6 separate regions of the Homo sapiens genome follow, and all the other regions are reported to be linked to region 2. The links are microRNA targets in miRTarBase. Many come from high-throughput screens and were not tested one by one. Region 2 holds a microRNA gene; each other region holds the end of a gene's coding sequence.
Evidence for each region. Region 2 holds the annotated microRNA hsa-miR-6864-3p (GUGAGACUUCUCUCCCUUCAG, at 2,433-2,453, shown strand). A microRNA usually pairs through its seed, bases 2 to 8, with sites in the 3' UTR of a target mRNA and lowers its output. Matches are read on the target gene's strand: a 7mer-m8 pairs with bases 2 to 8, a 7mer-A1 pairs with bases 2 to 7 and ends in A, and an 8mer does both.

Region 1: miRTarBase lists ZNF490 as a target of hsa-miR-6864-3p. Seed matches in the 3' UTR shown: 7mer-A1 at 2,963-2,969.
Region 3: miRTarBase lists FGG as a target of hsa-miR-6864-3p. The part of its 3' UTR that is shown has no 7-base or 8-base seed match.
Region 4: the mRNA of DCTN4 is a reported target of hsa-miR-6864-3p. Seed matches in the 3' UTR shown: 8mer at 2,064-2,071.
Region 5: miRTarBase lists TRPM7 as a target of hsa-miR-6864-3p. Seed matches in the 3' UTR shown: 7mer-m8 at 361-367 and 7mer-A1 at 22-28.
Region 6: miRTarBase lists NBEAL1 as a target of hsa-miR-6864-3p. Seed matches in the 3' UTR shown: 8mer at 2,059-2,066 and 7mer-A1 at 2,901-2,907.

Annotation. Positions count from the first base shown.
Region 1 is chr19:12,576,942-12,581,031 of GRCh38, forward strand. ZNF490 (zinc finger protein 490) reads right to left here. Exons shown (of 5, transcript NM_020714.3): 5 at 1-4,090. The coding sequence ends at 3,544. Among named protein-coding and RNA genes, the nearest start is that of LINC02926, 27 kb to the left of the region's middle. RefSeq lists an enhancer at 2,983-4,090.
Region 2 is chr17:4,968,065-4,972,154 of GRCh38, reverse strand. It overlaps MIR6864 (microRNA 6864), which reads left to right and starts at 2,384; the gene lies at 2,384-2,453. It overlaps CAMTA2 (calmodulin binding transcription activator 2), which reads left to right. Exons shown (of 23, transcript NM_015099.4): 17 at 1,619-1,815; 18 at 2,070-2,253; 19 at 2,454-2,525; 20 at 2,635-2,655; 21 at 2,818-3,005; 22 at 3,174-3,248; 23 at 3,336-4,090. The coding sequence ends at 3,399. It overlaps MIR6865 (microRNA 6865), which reads left to right and starts at 2,005; the gene lies at 2,005-2,069. RefSeq lists enhancers at 2,584-3,260, 2,094-3,293, 3,261-3,938, 3,939-4,090.
Region 3 is chr4:154,601,325-154,605,414 of GRCh38, forward strand. It overlaps FGG (fibrinogen gamma chain), which reads right to left. Exons shown (of 9, transcript NM_021870.3): 9 at 2,847-3,742. The coding sequence ends at 3,510. Among named protein-coding and RNA genes, the nearest start is that of FGG, 9.3 kb to the right of the region's middle.
Region 4 is chr5:150,707,400-150,711,489 of GRCh38, forward strand. It overlaps DCTN4 (dynactin subunit 4), which reads right to left. Exons shown (of 13, transcript NM_016221.4): 13 at 1,041-3,963. The coding sequence ends at 3,750. Among named protein-coding and RNA genes, the nearest start is that of RBM22, 8.4 kb to the left of the region's middle.
Region 5 is chr15:50,558,319-50,562,393 of GRCh38, forward strand. It overlaps TRPM7 (transient receptor potential cation channel subfamily M member 7), which reads right to left. Exons shown (of 39, transcript NM_017672.6): 39 at 1-3,490. The coding sequence ends at 3,360. Among named protein-coding and RNA genes, the nearest start is that of USP50, 14 kb to the left of the region's middle.
Region 6 is chr2:203,216,953-203,221,042 of GRCh38, forward strand. NBEAL1 (neurobeachin like 1) reads left to right here. Exons shown (of 56, transcript NM_001378026.1): 56 at 301-4,090. The coding sequence ends at 402. Among named protein-coding and RNA genes, the nearest start is that of CYP20A1, 20 kb to the right of the region's middle.

The DNA.
Region 1 (4,090 bases), not on the chromosome of region 2:
CAGACACAAATTCACAAACCCACAGGTGTAACAGCCCAGATACTAAAAGATTCTCCCAAATAGAAGGACCCCAGGTGTTCTGATCTCTTCTCCAGGTTTCTCTGGCTCCTCGGGAATAACCACCACAGTGCCTTATATATCCTTGCTTGCTTTCGTGTCTTCCAGAATGCCAGGATCAAGGGGACAGAGATATTAGCACAGCTTTGTTGACTACACCTATTAGAGGGAGTTACACAGAGGAAAATACTTACTGAATATTAGGACTCACACAGACACATACACAAAAGGGTTTTACAAAAACATCATCATAGACCCACATATACTTGTCCTTCAAAAAGTGAATGTTCTCACTCCCATTCCTGTAGCAGAGATACCCCTTAGTTCCCCAATACCTATCACAAAAGATGGCTCCTTGAGCCCATTCTGACAGTGAAGGAATCTCGAACTTCCTGACCTCCCACAGTACAATAATCATCTCTCTACAAAAGCACAACATGGCAGCTCAAGAATGTGAAAGGACCTGAAATGGGTTGAGTAATAATGTTCCAACCCCTCATACTACCATAAATGTTCCTGGTGAGAGAAGCGAATGTTCCTGGTGAGAGAAGCGAAGGTGTGCATCTCCTGGCTCAGCCACCAGGTCCTCCACTGCATCTCCACAGTAGCCGTCACTTCCACTGAGGCCTCATCTGCCAGCAAACCTTGCTCCAGTCGGCCTCTGGACCCTAGTATCTTCACCGTGGTTTTGGATGCTGCCACCTGACCCATCCCTGCTGTTGGGGGAGGGTGGAGGCCAGAGGCCTAAAGAGTTCCGACCCGAGCGACACAAAGATCACTTCTGGGACCCACCCAGGGAGACTGTTGTTACGAGGGTGGATGGTGACCTGGTTTCCCTCAATGCTGCCACCTCCCTTCTAAAACACACTGACTTGCTAAGAAAAGGGGGGACTGACTCCAACAAAGGACAGACCCGACCCCTATCGTGCCTATGCAATTCAGAAAACGGAGAATTCGGAGGCTCCAGCAAGCAGTTTATTGGGAGTTGAGTTCACCTTGCCTTGTGATGTGAAGCAAGGTAGTTCCATGGCTTGTGAACCCTGACACCAGCACCTCCCATACACAACAGAGCTGGAGCGCTGCAGGGTGGGTCCTTTTCCAAGAAGAGCTAAGTGCTAGTCTTAGCGGGAGGCTAGGAAACCAGTCCTGGAGCAGGATGCATGTGACATGCACTGACGTGAGAAGGCCGGAGCATCATCAGTGCATATGCCGCTGAATATCTCAGGGTAGAATGTGCCAGAAAACAGGGAAAGCAAGTTAGGGGAGGTAAGAATTCTGAGTGTCCTACAGCTAAGACATGGCAGAGTGTGTCTGTGACTCCACTAGCAGTTTTGAGATTATTCTGACTGTGGTGGTTGGTGCAGGGCTGGTAACCGCAGGAGAGTGGATGCTGTGTGGTCAAGGGGTGTGTGTCCCATGATACAGGCTCTGCTTCTTCAGTCTCTCACCTCAGAGCCACCTGCGGTTGCCACAGAGAAATTCAGATGTGAATGTTTAAACAAGTGTCCAAAGTGTAGGTTTGAGATGGGAAATGGAGCTGGAGATGACCTCAAAACAGCCCTGGAATAATGCAATGCTGACAATGTCTGTGAATTAGGATGTGCATAGGCAGATCCCACTTGGGGAAAAACTGTAAGATGCGAACCTTTGTCTTAGAAGTACAGCATTCCCACAGTCTGACCCGAGGACACTGATGGAAACTTAAAAGGCAGATTCTGGGAGTCTTCTCACTTCTCTCCAGTCATGTGTGAGAGCTGAGGGCAGGCACTGCCCTAGAGGGTGTTTCCTAACTTCTGACTGGATGCCACAAAAGGCCTGCTGGGGCCCAAGTCCTTCTTCCCCATTCCTTTAATTCTTCCTACGAAGAATCTCGACAATGGTTGCAGATGTCATTGAAGATGTTCCCATATTGCTTACATTTAAGAAGGTGGCTCTCCAGTGTGGGTGGTTTCATGGTTTTAAAATGAACTGGAGGCCGGGCGCGGTGGCTCACGCCTATAATCCCAGCACTTTGGGAGGCCGAGGAGGGCGGATCACGAGGTCAGGAGATCAAGACTATCCTGGCTAACACGGTGAAACCCCGTCTCCACTAAAAATACAAAAAATGAGCCGGGCGTGGTGGCGGGCGCCTGTAGTCCCAGCTACTCGGGAGGCTGAGGCAGGAGAATGGCGTGAACCCAGGAGGCGGAGCTTGCAGTGAGCTGAGATCGCGCCACTGCACTCCAGCCTGGGCAAGGACTCCGTCTCAAAAAAAAAAAAAAAGAACTGGGGGCCGGGTGTGGTGGCTCACGCCTGTAATCCCAGCACTTTGGGAGGCCAAGGCAGGTGGATTACCTGAGGTCAGGAGTTCAAGACCAGCCTGGCCAACATGGTGAAACCCCGTCTCTACTAAAAATATAAAAATTAGTTGGGCGTGGTGGCATGTGCCTGTAATGCCAGCTACTAGGGGGCCTGAGGCAGGATTGCTTTGACCTGGGAGGCAGAGGTTGCGCCACTTTCACTCCAGCCTAGGCAACAGAGTAAGACTCCAGCTCAAAAAAAAAAAAAAAAAAAAGTAAAACGAACAATTTGGGAGGCCAAGGTGGGTGGATCATTTGAGGTCAAGAGTTTAAGATCAGCCTGGTCAACATGGTGAAACACTGTCTCTACTAAAAATATAAAAATTAGCTGGGCATGGTGGTGGGCACTTGTAATCCCAGCTACTTGGAAGGCTGAGGCAGAAGAATTGCTTGAACCCAGAGGTTACAGTGAGCCAGGATCACACCACTGCACTCCAGCCTGGGGCAACAGAGTGAGACACCATCTTGGGGTGCGGCGGGGAAAAAAAGGTTGGGTGCTGTGGCTCACACCTGTAATCCCAGCACTTTGGGAGGCCGAGGCAGGCAGATCACCTGAGGTCAGGAGTTTGAGACCAGCCTGACCAACATGGAGAAACCCCATCTCTACTAAAATTACAAAATTAGCCAGGCGTGGTGGCGCATGCCTGTAATCCCAGCTTCTTGGGAGGCTGCGGCAGGAGAATTGCTTGAATCCGGGAGGCGGAGGTTGCGGTGAGCCGCGATCGCACCACTGCACTCCAGCCTGGGCAACAAGAGCAAAATTACATCTCAACAAAAACAAAAACAAAAAACAAACCCCACAAAAGATGGGATGGATATAGAATTTTCTTTATAGTTTCTCTCCAGTATATATTCTCAGGTGTCTTTAAAAGATTACGTGAAGTGAAGGCTTTCCTACACTCCATACATTCGTAGCTTTTCTGTCCATGGAGTCCATTCACATATCTGCAATCCCGCAGGAGAGTGCAAGTTCCTCCCCCATTTGTTAAATATTTCATTGCCGCATGAGTCACGTCTTCAAAGGGAATTAGGACAACTGAAGGCTTAATCACACCGTTTACATTCCTTGAATTTCTCTCCAGCGTAAGTACTCTCATACATCCAAAAGGAACTAATACAACTGACAGCATTACCACACTTTACTTTCTTAGGGCTTCTGTCTACTATGAGTCCTTTCGTGCACGTGCAAAGACTTTGAGTAACTGAAGGCTTTACCACATTGTCTACACTGAAAGGGTCTTTCTCCAGTATGAATTCTTTTGTGTACTTTCAGGGAATTTAAACAAGTGAAAGCTTTGCCACACTGCTTACACTCACATGGTTTCACTCCAGTGTGACTTCTTTCGTGCCTTCGAAGGTGACTGAAGTAAATGAAGACCCGACCACACTGTTTGCATTCATAGGGTTTCTCTCTAGTATGGGTTCTTTCATGGATTCGAAAGTGAGTGGAATAAAGAAAGGCTTTACCACATTCTTTACATTCGTAAGTTTTCTCGCCAGTGTGAACTCTTTCGTGCAACTGAAGGTAACTTGAAGAATTGAAGGCTTTACCACATTGTTTACATTCATAGGGTTTTTCTCCAAAATGAGTTCTTTCGTGCACTTCACAGGAACTAGATGACTTGAAGGCTTCCCCACATTTCTTACATGTATAAGGTTGAACTCCGGTGTGGGTTTTCACGTGTTTTCGAAGG
Region 2 (4,090 bases):
CAAAGTCTGGCTTCAGTTTAGGAAGGGCCTATTTACTTCATTTTGGGACAGGCAAGGTAGCCTTTTGCTTAGCTCCTTTTAGACCATGTGACTTGGAAGTCATGAGGCAGCGGAGGTTGAAAATTCTGGCTGGTCCCACAATACAGATGTTGGAAAAAAAAAATTTGGCCGGGCTTGGTGGCTTACGCCTGTAATCCCAGCACTTTGGGTGGCCAGGGCGGGTGGATCACTTCAGGCCAGGAGTTTGAGACCAGCCTGGGCAACATGGCGAAACCCCCTCTCTACAAGAAATACAAAAATTAACTGGGCACTGTGGTATGTGCCTGTAATCCCAGCTGTTTGAGAGGCTGAGACACAAGAATCACTTGAACCCAGGAGGCACAGGCTGCAGTGAGCCGAGACTGCACCACTGCACTCCAGCCTGGGTGACAGACTGAGACTGTCTCAAAAAAAAAAAAAAAAAGACAAAATAGTAAGATTTAAAATATAAAAAGCATTAAAAAATATTCTGGCTGGGTGCGGTGGCTCACCCCTGTAATCCCATCACTTTCAGAGAACGAGGTGGGAGGATCACTTGAGAACAGGGGCTTGAGACCAGTCTGGCCAACATAACAAGACCCCATCTCTACACAAAATAATTTTTTAAAAATAGGCATGGTGGCACACACCTGTAGTTGTAGCTACTTGGGAGGCTGAGGTAGGAGAACCCCTTGAGCCCAGGAATATGAGGTTGCAGTGAGCTGACTGTGCCATTGCATTCCAGCCTGGACAAGAGACCCTGTCTCTATAACAAAAATTCTAGGGAATATCTTCAGTTAGAGCTGGTTTGTAGGAGTTAACCGTTGATCTATGTAGGGACAAGGTTCTAGGAGAACCAAGATGACGGAGGGCAGCTGGGAGTTGTGTGGAGAGGTAAGGCTGGCAAGATGAGGGTATTTGGCAGTGATCTGATGCAGGAAGGAGGCTTGCACATGATAAAGCTAAGAAAGTCTTGTGGAATGAAAGTGAATCTTCAAGTATAGCCTTGTACTTCTCTGATAGAGACTGGGGACATACCTGCTTTAGAGAGACTAATGGAGTAAGTGGGTGGCACTTTAAGTACAAAAAACTTAGGGAACTCCACAAGTAGGTTGTGTTGAGTGTGTCCAGCAGGAAGTGCTGGAGTATAGGCTTCAGGGCTGGAGCAAAGGCCAGACTGGAGCCATTCATCCGGGTAGTAGTTGGCAAGTGTTGGAATGGTTCTTGGAGAGTTGAAAGGGAGCTGGGGGTGGGCACAGCCAAGCCTATGGGGAGCATGTGCTGGTCAGCTGGCATGGGGCAGGCCCAGGTAGGACAGTGGATGGTTGGCCTGAAAGGGTGTCAAGTCCTCCATTTGTTCAGCTTTGAATCCCCACTTGGAGTATCTCCTTTTTATCCTATATTCTCCATAGCATCTCAGCACAGAGGGACCCCCAAGTGGGAGCCCCATCAGTATAAATGAATGAGTCTGGAACAGTGGCCCAGAAAGACAGGGTTAGCAGCACCTGGCAGGGAGAGAAGGAACAAGATAGGAATGGACTGAGGTTACAGCTGGCAGCTGGGGCCCCTAAGGACTCACTCAGCTTCTCCCTTCTTCCAGGTGGACATGATCTCACTAGCCAAGCAGATCATCGAAGCCACACCGGAGCGGATTAAACGAGAGGACTTCGTGGGGCTGCCCGAGGCTGGAGCCTCAATGCGGGAGCGGACAGGGGCTGTGGGGCTCAGTGAGACCATGTCCTGGCTGGCCAGCTACCTGGAGAATGTGGACCATTTCCCCAGCTCAACCCCTCCCAGGTGACTAGCTCAGGACAAAGCCTCCAGATTCTTCAAAGGAAGATGGGAGGAAGGGAGAAAGCTGGCTTTCCCACAGCCAAAGCTCCATTCTGGCTGAGGCCCCAGGGCCTTGGAGAAGCGAACTGAACTGGCTGATGAACTCTGAAGTCACTCTCCAGACTCAGTTGCTGGTGGTTTTCCTTCGTAGCCATCCATAGGTGGCAGAGGAGGGACTTCAGATGCTTCATGACACCCTCTTTCCCTACCGCCTACAGCGAACTGCCCTTTGAGCGAGGTCGCCTGGCTGTCCCTTCAGCACCCTCCTGGGCAGAGTTTCTCTCTGCATCCACCAGTGGCAAGATGGAAAGTGATTTTGCCCTGCTGACACTATCAGATCACGAGCAGCGGGAACTGTATGAGGCTGCCCGAGTCATCCAGACGGCCTTCCGAAAGTACAAGGTCAGGGGCAGGGGTCTCAGGATGAATTACACAATCTCCAGTCAGGGGAGACTGGGCTCCCAGGGCTTTTGGAGGATGAGTAGTCGTGCAGACAGGCCTTGGATGGGGTAAAGGGTCAGGGGAACCCCAGGAAAGTTGAAGGGACAAGTCAGATATGCCATTATGTGGGTCATGAGGTGGTGAGACTTCTCTCCCTTCAGGGCCGGCGGCTGAAGGAGCAGCAGGAGGTAGCAGCAGCTGTAATCCAGCGCTGTTACCGGAAGTACAAGCAGGTGAGACCCTTCTCCCTCAAAAGTGTAACCAGCAACCCACCAACCCACACCCACGCCTAACCATTCCAGAATGTTGCCAGAGCCCTAACTCCCCTTCTCTCTCCACAAGCTGACCTGGATTGCACTTAAGGTATTAGGCATGAGCTCTGAGTGTGAGGTCTGTGATGATTCAGTCTTTCCTTGAGTGTGTGGGTTACAGAGAGTCTTGCATCAGCCTAACTTGGGTGAGCCTCAGGGCTTTGGGTCTCCGTCCCTCTATTTCAGCCCCTGTCCCTCCTCCCCACCCCTGCAGTTTGCACTCTATAAGAAGATGACCCAGGCGGCCATCCTGATCCAGAGCAAGTTCCGAAGCTACTATGAACAGAAGCGATTTCAGCAGAGCCGCCGAGCGGCTGTGCTCATCCAGCAGCACTACCGCTCCTACCGCCGCAGGCCCGGCCCTCCCCACCGGACTTCGGCCACCCTGCCTGCCCGCAACAAGTAGGGCCCAGCCCCAGCCCTCTGTGCCCACCCACTGCATCCACGCCATTCCCCCTTACTCATCCTCTTGATCATCATGCCTCACTGCCATTCCCTGCCTAGGGTTCCTGGGGGGGCCGAAGGCATGCGATGCCTTCTGTGAGGTCCATCTTTTGTTTCTTTCACCAGAGGCTCCTTTCTCACCAAGAAGCAGGACCAGGCAGCCCGGAAGATCATGAGATTCCTGCGGCGCTGCCGACACAGGTACTCATCCCTTCTCCCCCTGGGCTTTTGCGTTGCCACCCGTCGTGATCCGCCAGTCTCCTCTGACTCCTATCTTTCTCTCTGCAGGATGAGGGAACTGAAGCAGAACCAGGAGCTGGAAGGGCTTCCCCAGCCGGGACTGGCCACATGACCTGGCCACCGCCTTTCTCACCACCCTGGGGGCGCCTCGTGCAGTCTTAACAGGGAGAGGGCTTTCTGGGGCAGGGGGAGCCCCTGTCGGCAGCTTTCCTGTTCACCTTTGTTGGAGCCCTCTGTAGGCCTCCTCCCTCCTCCCCACGCCTTGCTCCCACACCCCTCTCCTCGTCCCTCCTGGTCGTGCCCCGTCTCTTTTGGTCCTGGCTCCAGAAAACCCGCGCCCCACATACCTGCATCTTCCGCTGTGACCTCCGGAGCCCTGCCTGCCCCTGCTCCCCAGCTCCTCCTGCCTGCACCCGACTCGGCCCCCTCCTGACTTGCCTTATTTATTTGTTCGACGCGTCTCTGAATGTATCCGCCTCGGTTCCCACCACTGCCTTCGCTGCGCACGCCCCTCGTGTTTCAGGGCTGACCGTGTCCCCACCCGACTCCGCATGTTTGCGTCTGTTTCCTCCCTCTCTGGCCCTGTCTTACCCCATCACCCGACTCTGGCCACTGACCTCAGGGCCGAAGGGGAGGTGGTGTACATAGGAACGCGTTGCGGAGTCCGCCCCGTCCCCCGAGGGGAGGGGTCTTGTACATACTGTAACATACAGAGTATAGTGAAGAATCTATTTAAGGCGCCGCGGGGAGGGCTGCACGGCCGGGCTTGTGGTTCTCTAGCGCGGCGGGGGCCTCCTGCCGGC
Region 3 (4,090 bases), not on the chromosome of region 2:
TTGATTTCTCAACATAACCCTTTCAATTGCCACTTTATTTGAGGAGACATGATGCAACTGAGTCTAGAAGGGTTTTTCATGCTTTAGTTCTTACTGTAGGCTTTCAGTGCTCACCGCTGGATATTAATAACTAAACAAGTAGAATTTTGAAATTCTTTTTTTTGTCTCTGCCTCACTGGGTTGCAAAGTGAACCACAAAATTAATATGTACTCGTTATAACAAGCCAAACAATGCAGAGATATCTAAAGAAAAAGTTAGTAGCCTCTTTCTACCAATGAATGCTGGATTATTCAACATGCAGATCAAGCTTGTACTCAGGATACCTACAAAAATCAGGAGACTCCTAAATGTTTTTGAAAGAATGCTATATTTGATATTTCAGAAGAAGAATTGGACAAGTGATAATGGGAGACATCAGGAATCTTTAGACTTCCTTATATTTATTTTGTGTTTTAGTATTTTTTTGTTTTTGAGACAAGGTCTCACTCACTCTGTTGCCCAGGTTGGAGTGCAGCAGCACAATCACGGCTCACTGCAGGCTCAATTCCCCAGGCTCAAGTGATCCTCCCACCTCAGTTTTCCTGGTAGCTATGACTACGGGTGTGCACCACCATGCCTGGCTAACATTTTTTGGTATTTTTTATGGAGACGGTTTTACCATTTCGCCCAGGCTGGTCTCAAACTCCTGGGCTCAAGTGATCTTCCCACCTTGGCCTCCCAAGTGCTGAGATTACAAGTGTGAGCCATCATGTCCAGCCATGTTTTAGAATTTTCATGTAATTATATATTGTGGATTGGTTGACAGGAGAACGAGTATGTACAAATAAGGATATATGTCAAGATTATATTTTGTTCATGAAGTATATGTATATACAACTTTACATAATTTTTATTTTAGAATTATTCTTACATCTTAAAATTTCACTTATTTTGTAAATATTTCCATATTCATAAAAAGCTATTGTGCTTATATAATCCTTATATTCTATTTTATTTACTAATAAGCTATCTTGCTTGTCCATTCTTCCACTGTTAAATATTTTCTTAATTTCCTACTAATATGAAATTTACATCTATATTTTTATTTCTGTATATAACTATTTTCTTTTTTAAAAATGATTTTCTTGGGATAAATCACTAGAGTGATATTGCATGAAAACTCATGAATATTGTATATCTCTTTGTAGCTATGACCAGATTGCTCACACAAAGGATTTTATAGGTTCACAAAGGGTAAACTGTATGCATTCTGGCTTTAGAAGTGGTTTGGAGGAGGATGAGATGGTAGCAGGAGAGGCTGGATGTAAGAAAGGGAACAGGAAGTGGGTGATTGCCCTTATCCTGGCAAGAGATGTATCTCAACTACAAAGGTGACAATCGGTATACAGGAAAAAAGTGAATATGATAAATATATAGGAGGTGAATTCAGCAGGCTTGATGAGTAATTGGATATAGGGAGGTAGAAATTGGATATGGGGAGGAAGATTGGAGGATGAGTCACTGTTTTTTTTGCATTTGAGGACTGGATGGAGTAGAACAGGTTTGGGAGAGTGGAGAACACTAAGCATACCATGTACTATATCCCCAAATCCAACACAATGGCTACCACAAGGAAGGCATTCAATAAATGTTAATTGAATAAGTGCTTCATGCATACATGTATATATGAAGGCTGCAAACAATGAATCAATGTTTCTATTTTCCAAAGCCTCCCACGTCTTCGGTTGTATATCTAGAAGCTGACTTACTGTTTTTATCTCTTCAATAGGATATCTTAAATTCAGCACTCCTGATAACAAGAAAGTGAAAAGATTAAGAAGGAAATTGTGGGCCTGGCATGGTAGCTCATGCCTGTAATCCCAGCACTTTTGGAGGCCGAGGCAGGAGGATCCCTTGAGGCCAGGCATTTGAGACCAGCCTGGGCAACACAGTGAGACTCTTTCTCTACAAAAATAAAAATTAAAGAAAAATTAGGCAGGTGTGATGGTGCACTCCTGTAGTCACAGCTACTCGGGAGGCTGAGGAAGGAGGATCACTTGAGCCCAGGAGTTCAAGGCTGGCTGCAGTGAGCTACTGTTGTGCCACTGCATTACAGACTGGGTGACAGAGTGAGACCCTATATCCAAAAAAAAAAAGGAAAGGCAAGAAGAAAGAAAGAAGTGTGAAAAGAAAGAGAGTGCAAAGCCAAAGCTCAGGACTTCGGAACAACCAGACCCACCTCATAAAATTAGCCAATTACTTCCCACAGTCAGCCTTTTGCTAAGTTATGTAGATTTAGCTATTCCTTAGAAAGTTGGCGAATGAACCTGAACTCAGGCTGCTAAAAAGTCAATATCCCTGAATCAGAAGGAAGAGATGGTTCCATTCAGCTCACCTCATGACTAGTGAGAGATAGGGCAAATAGCTCCCTAAAGCTCTCTGCTCTGAGTTGCAGTCCTTTCAGAGTGACCAGGTCCCACCACAGGTGTTTGGAGCTAAAAGGTTCTGCTGGGAGACTCCCCAAGCAGCTTTCCTGTCTCCAGCTGCACTTTGGATACTATGCATCTTGGTTGTGTGGCTGTGACTCCTGCTTAGTGATTATGTTCTTGTATAGAGTATTGTCAGTTTGGGTTGCTGTATTTTCCTGTATTTGTCCTGTATCTCCTAGAGGGCAAAAGCCATAATTGCTATTTCCTTTGTAACTCCCAAAGAGTTAGGCATAACATTTAGCATAAAATGAGGACTCAATTACTACTGATGGTTGCCCAATTGTAATTGGTAAATTGGCAAAAAGTGGTGGTTTTTAATGGTCAATAAAGGTACCATGTATCTAGTCTTAGGAAACAAAAGGTTTATTGAAATGCATGTAGATAAATTATCATCAGCATAAAACTGTTATGGAGTTTTCAACATGGGGTCTTTTGCTCTTAAAATGAAGTGAAGCTTTGCAAGTCCATTGTCCAATAGGAAAAATATTATATCTCTCTGTTCAGATAAAGTCCTTTAAAAAAGTAAATCTCTTTTGAAACGGTCTTTTAAACGTCTCCAGCCTGTGAATATATAACAAAACAAAAACCATATTAAAAAGACATAATTTTCTCCATTTAAAAAGAAGAATTAAATAGGAATGATTTAGGGGTAATAAACAAGGAAAATACCTGGGAATTTGAAACTCTAAAATGTTCTCCTATTTTATTAAGTACATACTAAAATATTTGATATAATGAAAATAATTTACGAAGACAAAATAAATGACAAGTGGTCATAAAAATGCAAATAAAGTCAATCATTTTATTATTATATATTTAGGAACAAAGTTGAAATGTTATCTCCTCAAATAAACAATTTTTAAATAACTCTGATATCAGTAATTTGGAAATACAGTCCTAAATGAGTTTTAATTTCCATTGAAGGCTAAATGTCCTTAATAGAAGACTTGAAATCAATAAATATAGTAAGAGAAAAAAGGAAGAAACTTTCAGAGAATTTCTGAAACTTTGTGGGTCAATAGAAGTTAGCAGTTAATTTTCTACAAATCATCCTCAGGGTAAAGTGAGTCATATTCTGTTTCCGCAGGGTGCTCTGGTCTGACCTGTTTGGCTCCCCCCAGGTGGTGTTGCTGTCCTTCTCCAATTGTGAGTCTGTTGAATGGGATTATCTTCATAGTGGTTTTCTTCATGGAATACCACCGGGTTTTCCAAGTGGCCCAAATAATGCCATTATCATAACCATTAGGAGTAGATGCTTTTGAGTAAGTGCCACCTAAAACAAGTCGTAGATGTACATATCATTATTCTGGAATCTTTTTACCTCTGCAAGTCTATGAAGAGCTGTCTATTACGAAGTGCATTGCCAGTTACATAAAATTTATAGTATTATCTGCTAACTGAAAATATCTCCAAAGATTCCTAAAATATCAATTTATAAAATAAACATATTATTAAACAACATCTGTGCTGTGACTCATAGTCACATCCACACTTTAAATTTATTCACTACTAGTAGGGCTAGAAACCCAAAGTTCCCTAATTGGCCTCTGTCCCTAAGCTTATCCATCCCGGACTCAGCTGCTGTGGACCATCTTTCTTCAGGCAGGTTAGAAGAGAAGGA
Region 4 (4,090 bases), not on the chromosome of region 2:
ACTCAAGATTTCCCTTTATTTCCATGCATGGAGGGGCCCACAAGCCTCCTAAAAGGGGGTCCCTGCTCTGCCTCAAAACCAGGAGTGTTGTGTTCTGGAAACCAAGCAAAGCCTTTCAAGAAGGGAGAGATAAACTGTCAGATCTACTGAAAAATTGCATAGTTAAGGACTGAGAACTGACCCTGTATTTAAGTGTGGTGATTGCTGGTGACCTTGACAAGAGCAGTTTCGACCAAGTGGTGGCGGTGAGAGTCTAACTGGAATGGGTTCAGGTGAGAATGGAGGAACTGGAAGGTTGAATTAGGGTTTTTTTTTTTTTTTTTCCCTTGAGACGGAGTCTCGCTCTGCTGCCCAGGCTGGAGTGCCGTGGCGTGATCTTGGCTCACTGCAAGCTCCGCCTCCCAGGTTCACGCCATTCTCCTGCCTCAGCCTCGAGAGTAGCTGGGACTACAGGCACCTGCCACCAGGCCCGGCTAATTTTTTTTATTATTTTTAGTAGAGACGGGATTTCACCTTGTTAGCCAGGATGGTCTCGATCTCCTGACCTCGTGATCTGCCCGCCTCAGCCTCCCAAAGTGCTGGGATTACAGGTGTGAGCCACCGCACCTGGCCATTTTTGTTTTTTAAAAAACTTTTACTTAAACAGAGACAAGGTCTTGTTAGGTTTTCCAGTCTTGTCTCAAACTCCTGGCCTCAAATCATCCTCTCACCTCGGCCTCCTAAAGCGCTGGGATTACAGGTGTGAGCGATCATGCCCAGTCAGAGTTAGAGGAGTTTTGCTGTACAGGGAGTGGAGAAATGGAGTGGCAGCTGAAGAGGAGAGTGAGGCCAATTTCTTTTTTAAGATGAGAGAAATCACATGCTAATGGAAAAGGGAAGGAGGGAGCTGCCGATGCTATCTGTGAATAGGTAAGAGGATGAGCTTCAGTGTTAAGAGGTGGGGCTGGGTTCCAACAGGAAGAGTATGAATAATTCATCTAAGTAAGAGGAGGGAAGGAACAGTTATGAAGGTACAGATGAAGGTGATGAGTGGCCACTGGTGGAGTCAGACCACTGTGTATATTGTAAAGGATATCTTTAGAAGCAATGACCCAGGATAAAAACTGGTAGAGGTCTAACAACATTTATATAATGGTTCTGTGAATATGTATATAAGAAGCTCAAAGCAACATCTACTTATATATTATGGTGAACTAACCTGCTAAGAGATTTTAGATTACTTCATTTAAGGAATGGAAGGGAGCATGCCCCACCAACTCTCTTAGCCAACTCTCTTAACTTCACGCTTGTCTTTTGGCTCTGAGCCATGCTACTTAGTATCTACATGAGAGCAAACAAAAGACACGCTCAAGCTTTGTCTGCTTTATTTCACTACATTAAGTTAAGCAATAAGGCAAAACAGTAACCTGTCATTCATAAAGATCAAGGAGTACCTCTCTGTCCCAAAAGGGACCAAAAAGGGTGTTTCTTCACAAATATGCATGACACTTAGCTCATTATGCTGATAAGCACTTCAAACAAAAGAAAAGGTCAGTAGGTGAATCAAGTAACAAATCCAAATTAACTTAGCCTAAGTTTCCAAAGCTGTAGTTTCAAGTGCTAATGGGATCTAACTTTCCTGTGGTGGTGCATACTGACTAGCATTAAAATTTTTGCACCTCATCTAATATAAAAAAGGCAACAAATACAATTCCTAATTCACCAGCTGCAGGTATTGAATCATTTCTACGAACACACAGAATACTAGCTTACACTAAAACCTATCTTGAGGAAACATTAAACCAGTGGCTCTATTATTCTGCAAGTTAGTTTGGCTTCTGAAGAAAAAAGTTTATGATCAAAGTGTTTTGTGTTTCTGTGTATGGGAATGATGAGACCCATACTTCAACATTATTACTTTGGGGAATAAATACCAGCTACCTGCCATAAACGCATGACATGTGTGTAGTCTATGCAAACGTGTAAACATATGAAGCTATTCTCTACTCTATGCCCATTTCCTCCACTGGCAAATATGGAGCAGTGATTTCACAGTAGGCTCTAGCAGGTAGTGAAATAAAAATTTGAGACTCTGTGGGGTCACAAAAAAATGAAACTCTTTCTATAGTCTGCAAATCTGTAATTACCCATCCCCCTGCTCCAACTCCTAAGAGGCTAAATGTTATTACCATAATGTTAGAGATGAGTATTTTCCTTCTTACACTGCATCACATATATTACTCTGTAGGACTGTTTCATAAAATTGGCTTGACCTTTGTACAATTAGTACAATTTAGTGTCTTTTAGAGTACAATTTAGTGTCTTTTAAAAGCTTCCTAAATATTTAAAACATTTTCAAGGGAAGCTTACAAGGACTATGTCCCATCTGTATTCTACATTATAATGTTATCTTTAATTTTTTAAGACTTAAAACAAGACCAAGGTAAACAAAAAATCTGTATTTTCCTCAAGTCTCTTGGCCACTTACTAACAATACTTTTACAGAAAACACGGTGCAGCTGGTGGTCTACTTTATCAAGTTTCATTTTAGAAAACATCATAGAAATTAAGGTTAGCAACCCAACTCCAGGATACCAAGTGAAAACAGCAAGTCTGCTGTTAGGCCAGAACTGTGGGCTACTTGCTGAACTATTTTATGGTTTACAATCAAAATGGTCTTATTTGACTCACCACATGACAAAAGTCTTAAACTTAGTAAGGGGGAAAGTTCTTAATATCCAGTTTTGGATTCAAGAGATTATAATAGTTAATTTCCCCTTCAAATCAATGGAAAGAATGCTAGTTGAGAATATTCTAAAAATCTAGCCTTTAAAATGTTTTCTGCATTCCAGAAATGAACCTGTCCACTCAGGTTTTCTTTGGGTTCTTTTCCAGGTCCCAAACAGAACAACTTAACTGAGTTAAAGAGGCAGAACAGGGAAGGGGTAGGAAGTAAGACAAATAAAGATTGCCCCCCTGTGGCAGCATTAATCCCTGGGTATTGTGGCAATATTGAAAACGAATGGAATCTGCTACCCCCTTGACATGACATGTAATTGTTTGCTTCTCAAATTCTTCTTAAAAGATCCATATTTTACTGGGAAAAAAATTAAGAACAACTAATACGTGTCCTGTATTCACTTAGAAAAAGAGGGCAAATGAGAGTGCCTTAACAACTTCACAGGTTTTTCCAATCATCATGATACTAAAGATAAAGTGACAATTCAGTTTTTCAGTTATATGGAAATCTATGGCAAAATGGCAGCCATTATGGCAATGAAGGGATATGTTTTAGACTGTTAGATGATATTTAACGGAATGCAGAAAGCAGTTGGTACATTGTGACCAATGCTGGATCATTAACAGCAGGTCTACCTTTGGGTTATCATTTAAGTTTCATCTGTGACATTGTGATCCTTAGTGAGATCAGATCAAGAGACAGTACAGAGTTTCTCAGGTGGTAAATACAATGCCATTCCAAGGAACACCCATCCCCTTTCCTAGGATGGAATTATGCTGCTGTTACTCAACGTGCAGGGTTCAGTGAGGGAGACACAGACTTACTGGTGTCAACAGGGGTGAGAGCAAGAGCAACAGCAGCTACCCTGTGTTCCCAATGCCTTGCCTATGCTCCCACTTTCTTAGCAATAGAATTCCGTAGTGCATGGGTACATCGTTATAAACAAGGCCTAATGAAGCAGCAGCTTCCACATTTTAACGCAGGTTTACGGTGATACTGTCCTTTGGGATCTGCCCTCCAGTGGAACCTTTTAAGGAAGAAGTGGGCCCAAGCTAAGTTCCACATGCTGGGTGAGCCAGATGACTTCTGTTCCCTGGTCACTTTCTTCAATGGGGCGAATGGGGGCTGCCAGGTTTTTAAAATCATGCTTCATCTTGAAGCACACGGTCACTTCACCCTCCTCACGCTGTGGTGTAACTTTGATGAAAATACCCACTTTGTTGGCCTTTCTGAAGGCTATAATGCTATGGAAAGAAAAAAAAGCAAGTATTAGGTAGATAAAAAAATCAGCCAAACCACTAAGACTTACAGTAAAAGTCTTTCACCTTATTCTTTCCTTCAGCACACACAGAAAACCTATAAACACTTTGT
Region 5 (4,075 bases), not on the chromosome of region 2:
GGATCACTTGAGCCCAGGAATTTGAGACCAGCGTGGGCAACAAGGCTAGACCCCATCTCTACAAAATATATATTTAAAATTAGTTGGGTGTTACCCAGGCATGGTGGCTCACACCTATAATCCCAGTACTTTGGGTAGCCGGGGGAGGTGGATCACTTGAGGTCAGGAGTTTGAGATCAGCCTGGCCAACAAGGTGAAACCTTGTCTCTACGAAAAATACAAAAATCAGCCAGGCATTATGGTGGGTACCTGTAATCTCAGCTACTTTGGAGGCTGAAGCACGAGAATTGCTTGATCTTGGGAGGCAGAGGTTGCAGTGAGCCAAGATTGTGCCACTGTACTCCGGCCTGGGCAACAGAGTGAGACTTCAACTCAAAAAAACAAAAATAAATAAAAATGAAAAATAAAAAAATATATATATAAAATTAGGTACGTGTGGTGGTGCATGCCTGTGGTTCCACCTAATCAAGAGGCAGTGGCAGGAGGATTGCTTGAGCCCAGGAGTTTACGGCTGCAGTGAGCTATGATCACGCTACTACACTCCAGCCTGGGCAACAGAGCAAGAGGTTGTCTTTTTTTTTTTTTTCTTTCTGAGACAGGATCTCACTCTGTTGCCCAGGTTGGAAAGCAGTGGCATGATCTCAGCTCACTGCTGCCTCAGTCTCCCAGGCTCAAGTGATCCTCCCACCTCAGTCTCCCAAGTAGCTGGAACTACAGGTGCACACCATCACATCCAGTTATTTTTTTTTTTTTGACGGAGTCTCGCACTGTTGCCCAGGCTGGAGCGCAATGGCACGATCTCAGCTCACTGCAACCTCCACCTCCCAGGTTCAAGCAATTCTCCTGCCTCAGACTCCTGAGTAGCTGGGATTACAGGCACTCACCGCCATGCCCAGCTAATTTTTTGTATTTTTAGTAGAGACGGGGTTTCACTATGTTGGTCAGGCTGGTCTCGAACTCCTGACCTTGTGATCCGCCCACCTTGGCCTCCCAAAGTGCTGGGATTACAGGCATGAGCCACTGCACCTGGCCTAATTTTTGTATTTTTTTTTTTAGCAGAGATAGGATTTTGCCATGTTGCCCAGGCTGGTCTCAAACTCCTGAGCCCAAGTGATCCACCTGCCTTGGCCTCCCGAAGTGCTGGGATTACAGGCATGAGCCACCATGCCCCACCAAGACAAACAAAACAAAACAAAACAAAACAAAACAAAACAAAAACAGTATAGATGAAAGGCAGCCAGCCTGGGTTCAAATCCTACCGTTGCTACTTATTATTAAATAAACGTAAGAATCTTATGGACGTTACTTTACCTCTCTAGCACCTTGACTTTCAAATCTGCAAAACAGGATAATAACACCTATTTCTTTATAACATTGTTATAAGGATTAAGTAGGTTAATATATGTGAAATACTTAGAGTAATGTCTGGTACACAGTAGGCACTAAATAAGTGTTAGCAGCCAGGTGCGGTGGCTCACAAGGTCAGGAGTTTGTGACCACACTGGCCAACATAGTGAAACCCTGTCTCTACTAAAAATATAAAAATTAGCTGGGCATGGTGGCGTGTGCCTGTAGTCCCAGCTACTCGGGAGGCTGAGGCAGGAGAATCACTTAAACCCGGAAGGCGGCGGTTGTGGTGAGCTGAGATCGCACCACTGCACTCCAGCCCAAGCAACAGAGCGAGACTCCGTCTCAAAAAAAAAAAAAAAAAAAAAAGTATAGCTACTATTATAATCCTGTGAAAATAATCAATATAAAATTAAAAATCAACAGACAGCCCATATTGCCCTTTTTTGGCCTAACAAAAAACAGATTTCTAAGAAGACAGTAAGAAATCAGTATTAATTTAAACATTGTACAGGACAGGAGATCAAAAGCACAGGTATACAAATGGTTCATTTAAAAAAACTGATACTCAAATTGACACCCTGAAAATGTCAGATAATTTTTCAGAATGATTAAACTCACTAAACATCTGTAAACAATAAATTTATTTCATTTCTTTTAAAGATTTAATGATATACAAAACGTATATAGTATCTTTAAGTAATACACTTTTTCTTTCTCCCCACCCCCAATCAATATTAAACACTATTTAAACAGCTTATCATCTCTTGCCTTGTCTGTATCTATGAGATACACTACTAAATACAAATAAGCTTTATACTGCTCCCTTCCAAATAAAAATTAAAATTAGTACCAAGGAAACAAAAGAAAAAGAAAAAAAAAGAAAAAAAATTAAAGCATAAAACTTAGATGAAAAGCTTTTCTTGTTATTGTTGAATATTCAACAATATCTGGGGCTGTTAAATTACATTTTATTGGCATAAGGTTGCACTGCAATCTGCCAGTATCACATAATGATAATCCAACTGAATTAATTTCTTAAGTACCACAAACAGCATTCATGTTCAAATGTTCCAACACAATTTTAAATATATGCAAGAGTTCATGTTTACATTCTGATTTGATATAACAATCAATAAAATCTTTGGAGAAGTTTGTAAGTTCTGGGTTGTTGCTATAGATACAGATAGGGAAAAAAGTACTTTAACTTTCCTCAAAAGGTAACTTCCCTTGACGAGTGAGTTAGGTTTCTGCTTTTATAATTTAGGTTATGTATCAGTTTACCATGGCTTTCTTCTACTTAACAGTGACTTGATAAAACAATGTTTAAAAAACCCAATTAACATTTTTACACAATTTGGGTTCTATTTAAAAAAAAAAACTGGCTCTATCTTTAAATATGGAGCCTAACCCTGATTCATAAATACCGTCCCTCTTGAAAATGGTCTTCAGTTCAGGCTTCTCATACCTCTGTGAACCTAGAATTAGAACAAGTCATTTCCCTTCCCGTGGCCAACAAGCATCTAGTTGGGAACCAGTGATATCATCACTGAACACACTAAATACACTGAGGAAAATTTTGACTGCCATTTAACCAAAAGGCTGCGTGATTTCTTCATTTCCCTAGTTGAATGGCAATAAAACAGCTGCCAATAAAATCTGCATGGACACCTACCTTTGGTTAATGGTATTGTACCACATAAGAGAGAGCATCACCCTCATCAAAACAAAGTCAAATGAGATCCTCTGCTATACAAAGAGCCCTTTAAAAAGTTATAAATACTAATTATCAATTACCTTTAAAATTTCTCAGCTGCCAGCTCTATCCTATAGGGACTTTCTGACTGATTAATCAGGTCAAAAGAATATTGACCTTTTAACTGTGCTGGAGTCAGCAAATTCAACTTGCATACACCTTTCTATATTACCAAACAATTTCCTCCCGAGGGAAAAGTGACACAGTAACATTTCTGTGAGGTGCAGGCAAAACCAATGATTCAGTAATATTAATATTATAACATCAGACGAACAGAATTAGTTGATTCTGATTCTTTGGTGGAATTTCCAGGCTGAAGATTCAAATCTGAAGGCTCATCCTGAGGAAATATAATTTTATCAGGCGTATAATCATTCCTCTTCAGATCTACATTGAACACCCACAACAATTAAAAAAAAAAAAGAAAGAGAAAAGAAAAAAGTTAGTATTTCTTAGAAATGGAGAATTAGGAACCTTTTATTTTCTTTTCAAGACGGAGTTTCGCTCTTGTTGCCCAAGCTGGAGTGCAATGGCGCGATCTCGGTTCACTGCAACCTCCACCTCCCGGGTTCAAGCGATTCTCCTACCTCAGCCTCCCAAATAGCTGGGATTACAGGCATGCACCACCATGCCCGGCTAATTTTTTGTATTTTTAGTAGAGACAGGGTTTCACCATGTTGGTCAGGCTGGTCTTGAACTCCCGTCCTCAGGTGATCCACCTGCCTCGGCCTCCCAAAGTGCTGGGATTATAGGTGTGAGCCACCATGCCCGGCTGAATTAGGATCATTTCTAATCAATTTTTCTCCAAACATGTCAGACTTGTTTTCCATCAGGTTGTTATAAATTCAGTAGTCACCAAATTTATACACATAAAAATGAAGTCATTCATTCATTCAACAAATAATTACATATTGACCATGAGTCAGAAACTCATGTAGGCGTGGGAATGTAGCAGTGAACAAACCAGACAAG
Region 6 (4,090 bases), not on the chromosome of region 2:
GCCACCATGTTGGGCTAATTTTTGTATCTTCAGTAGAGACGGAAGTTTGCCATTTTGGCCAGGCTGGTCTCAAACTCCTGGCCTCAAGTGATCTACCTGCCTCGGCCTACCAAAGTGCTGGGATTACAGGCATGAGTCACCACACCTGGCCGTCTTTCTCTATTATTGATAACCTTTAAAGTGTTAATAATTCTGCTAACAATTTGTTTCTTTTCACTCTGCAAAATCAGTGTCTTACATATCTTTTTTTTAATTTTTTCTTAATATTTATTCTTCATTTCTTTGGATTACTTTACACAGATGCGTTCAGGTCAGCTTTCTCGAAAATTTTGGGGATCGAGCAAGCGGCTCAGCCAGATTTCAGCTGGAGAAACTGAATATAATACTCAAGATTCCAAGTGATTGTTATTTCCATTTTCTGTTATGATTACTGAAACCTGATTTATTGCTTTGTCACTTTAACCACATCTCTCAACTCTCTGCAATGTTGCAAGGCTTTTATCCCTGAAAATCATTTACAGATAACCACAATTTGCTGTGGTATATAAACTAATTCTTGGTCTATACTAAGATGTATTTGAGAAAATACATTTGATTTGATTTTGTGGCCCATTCCTAAAGGTCATTGTATCCATTTTTAAAACAAACTAAAATGAGAACATTAGGTTCAATTTTCTTATTATTCCAAATGATAAAATTTAAGATTTTTCTAATAAAAGAGTACAGATAATGGGACAGTTGAGAGAGATGGCTTTAAATACATTCTTAAGTAATCATTTTCCTATTTACTGACCACTGTAATGAAAATATATCAATTTATTTATGGAACTCCTGATTGGGGATAATATTTTAAAGGTATCTGTTGCACACTTGGATTTTCAAAACTCGGTGAAAGTTACAAGTTTGCATGGTAAGAATAAAATAAGAATATTGAAACTGGTACATTAGCTAATTCTATTACTACTTAGCGTGTTTCTAATGAGAAGTTACTGAAATCTATTACTGTCCTTAATAAAAATTGAGTAGAAAAAAGTGGAACTAGAGATACATTTTACAGATGTATTTCCTTAATAATATAATTAAGCAAAAGTGCTAATTGTGATTTTGACAGTTGGGCCTTTTAAGTAGCATTTGCAGCACAATTTGCATTTGCAAAGTTCCGAATTTCTTGACTCTTTCTTCACTAAGCAAATACTGTTTTACTCTAATAATTAAGAGTTAGTAGTACCCAAATATGTTGAATTTTTACTTAGGATATCTGTGTGATTGATGAATGAATTGAAAAGATATGTATAACTTAAAATAATCATTTATATATAGTAATTTAAAAATTTCTATTTCATGTTTTAGGATTATAGCTAATTTTATTATATAGTGTTAAATGTTGTGGTTGATTATTAAGATCTTAAAGTAAAAGTCTGATTTATTTAATTTGGAATTCAAAGACATTGTTAAACTTAGATTTTTTTGTAAGATTATCTTTTGAGTTAGGTCAGAGAGCTTTTACAACTACCAGTGTTATTAATCTGAGATTTCATGTGTTTGGGAGAACTTGTGAATCCCTCTGAAATTGTGCAGAGACTTTGTATGTTAAATGCATTTTCAGGAAGGAATGGTTACATGGCTTTCTTTAAAGGGATCTGTTTCCAGTAATAGTATTCTTTTTTGTTCCACAAATCATAGATGTCCTTAAATCCAATTGTCTTCTCAGTTGAATCTTAGAGAAATTTTTCTTTTGCAATTTCGCTTTCCTGTTGACCACAGTATCCAGTGCCCTTTTCTTTATAATCTTTTGAGTGAGTAAAAAAATTTTAAGAAATAAAGGATTCTGTTTAGGGAAACTTTTGAATAGATTTGATTTGATGTGAGTCAGGGCTAATAAAAAGCTATAGAAGAATTTTCTTTCCAATAAGTAAAAATCCTCTGTTTTATTAAGGAAAAAATAGCTATGTTTTAGGTAAATAACTCTGAAATAAACTGGTACAACAATTGTAAAATAGAACATATTTAAATGTCAAGGTGTCTTTTCTTAAGACTTCAGGAATTTGTATTGAACAAAGTCTCAAGTTAAGTAGCAATAATTATGATGCATAAATGAGACTGGCATCTATTCATTTATTTTATTCTTTTTTGGGGTGATGGGAGGTTTCAATCCAGTGCTTCACCCGTGGTGCCACCGTGGCTATCTTTTTTTTTATCTTACAGTTTTTTAGGAGATTTCAAGTCGGCAGAACTAACATGATTGATTTTTAGTTTTTAAAATACTGATTTTTTTAGAAACTTTTTCTAAATCAAAACCTACTAAGTTTTATTTTGTTATTTATCCAGAGATTTTGATGTAAAAATGCCTTCATTTTTAAGATTACTTAATACTGGATTTGAAAATTATTTTGGATGCTTATAAGTTTTCTAAAACTTAGATAATTAGAAAAAATGCCTAAGTTTATGATGTTTTACTATGCTGCTTTTTAGATGGAAGAAATAAGCAGTTTTTACTTTATAGTACAAATAAGTTTTGTTCACAATAAAATAGATATCCTACCTGGACTAATACTAGATGTACAAGGTAGTGGAATTATTTCTTATATTGCTTTTTCCAAAAAGTAAAAACCAAAAATGTGGGCCGGGTGTGGTGGCTCATGCCTGTAATCCCAGCACTTTGGGAGGCTGAGGCAGGCGAATCACAAGGTCAGGAGTTCAAGACCAGCCTGGCCAACACAGTGAAACCCTTTCTCTACTAAAAATACAAAAATTAGCCGGGCATGGTGGCACATGCCTATAGTCCCAGCTACTTGAGAGGCTGAGCAGCGCAGGAGAATCACTTAAACCCGGGAGGTGGAGGTTGCAGTGACCTGAGATCACGCTACTGCACTCCAGCTTGGGCAACAGAGTGAGACTTTGTCTCAAAGAAAAGAAAAAAAATATGGAATTTAGAGAAAAATCTTTGAGAATACTAGCAACAGTCTAGAGAATGGAACTTAAATTTTATCTGTTAAAAGAAGCAAACAACTATTAGTGAATAATATATTACTCATTTAAAGAGTATAGCCTACTGAATTAAAAATCACTAGATAAAATAATTGGAAAGAAGTACTTTTGAGAATTCTGGTATATTTAGATGTTACCCATAGAAATTAGTTATATATTATATAATGGGAGAAATGAACAGTATCATTGGAATGAAATAACAGGTGGACATTTCAATTGGTGAATATAGTATCTCAAGTTGGCTCTTACAAAGTCTGTTACCTGGCCAATTGTGGTGGCTCACGCCTATAATCCCAGCTCTTTGGGAGGCCGAGGTGGGCGGATCACAAGGTCAGGAGTTCAAGACCAGCCTGGCCAACATGGTGAAACCCTGTCTCTACTAAAAATACAAAAATTTGCTGGGCATGGTGGCAGGTGCCTGTAGTCCCAGCTACTCAGGAGGCTGAGGCAGGAGAATCGCTTGAACCCAGGAGGCAGAGGTTGCAGTGAGCCAAAATCGCACCACTGCACTCCAGCCTGGGCAACAGGGCAAGACTCCATCTCAAAAAAAAAAAAAGTCTGTTATCTTTGCAAAACTTTTTGTATGCTTTTGTTTCTTGATACTGGTGATGACAAAAATAAAAATCTCAGCATCCTGGTGATAGGAAGAGATTTATACCAAGATAATTATTTTACTTTTGGAAAATGAGATCAAGTATTAAAACATGTAATAGCTGTGCACGCTTAGAGAATAAAGAACCTTTATAAAATTTTTTTACAACTGTTTGCAATCAGTATTCTGGCATTACTCAGATAAAATTGTAAGAGAGAAAGAAAAATAGATCAGGGCATAAAAATCAGGAAAGTATATAAAAATGAAGTTTGGCAAGTTGGTTTAGTCTTTCTTTTTAGCCTGTGAAGCTCACGTCTGTTATTAAGTTAATAACAAAATTAAAATCTGTTAACTTTGTTTAGGTCACAGTGCAGTGCATCCTTTTGTAGAAGAAAAAATACCAAGTGTTCATTCTGTCATTAGCAAGGAACACCAATGAGGTTTCTTTTTTTTCTCTATTTAGGGCATATTAAAATTATCCTTCAGAGTACTTGTATTGAAAATCAAGTT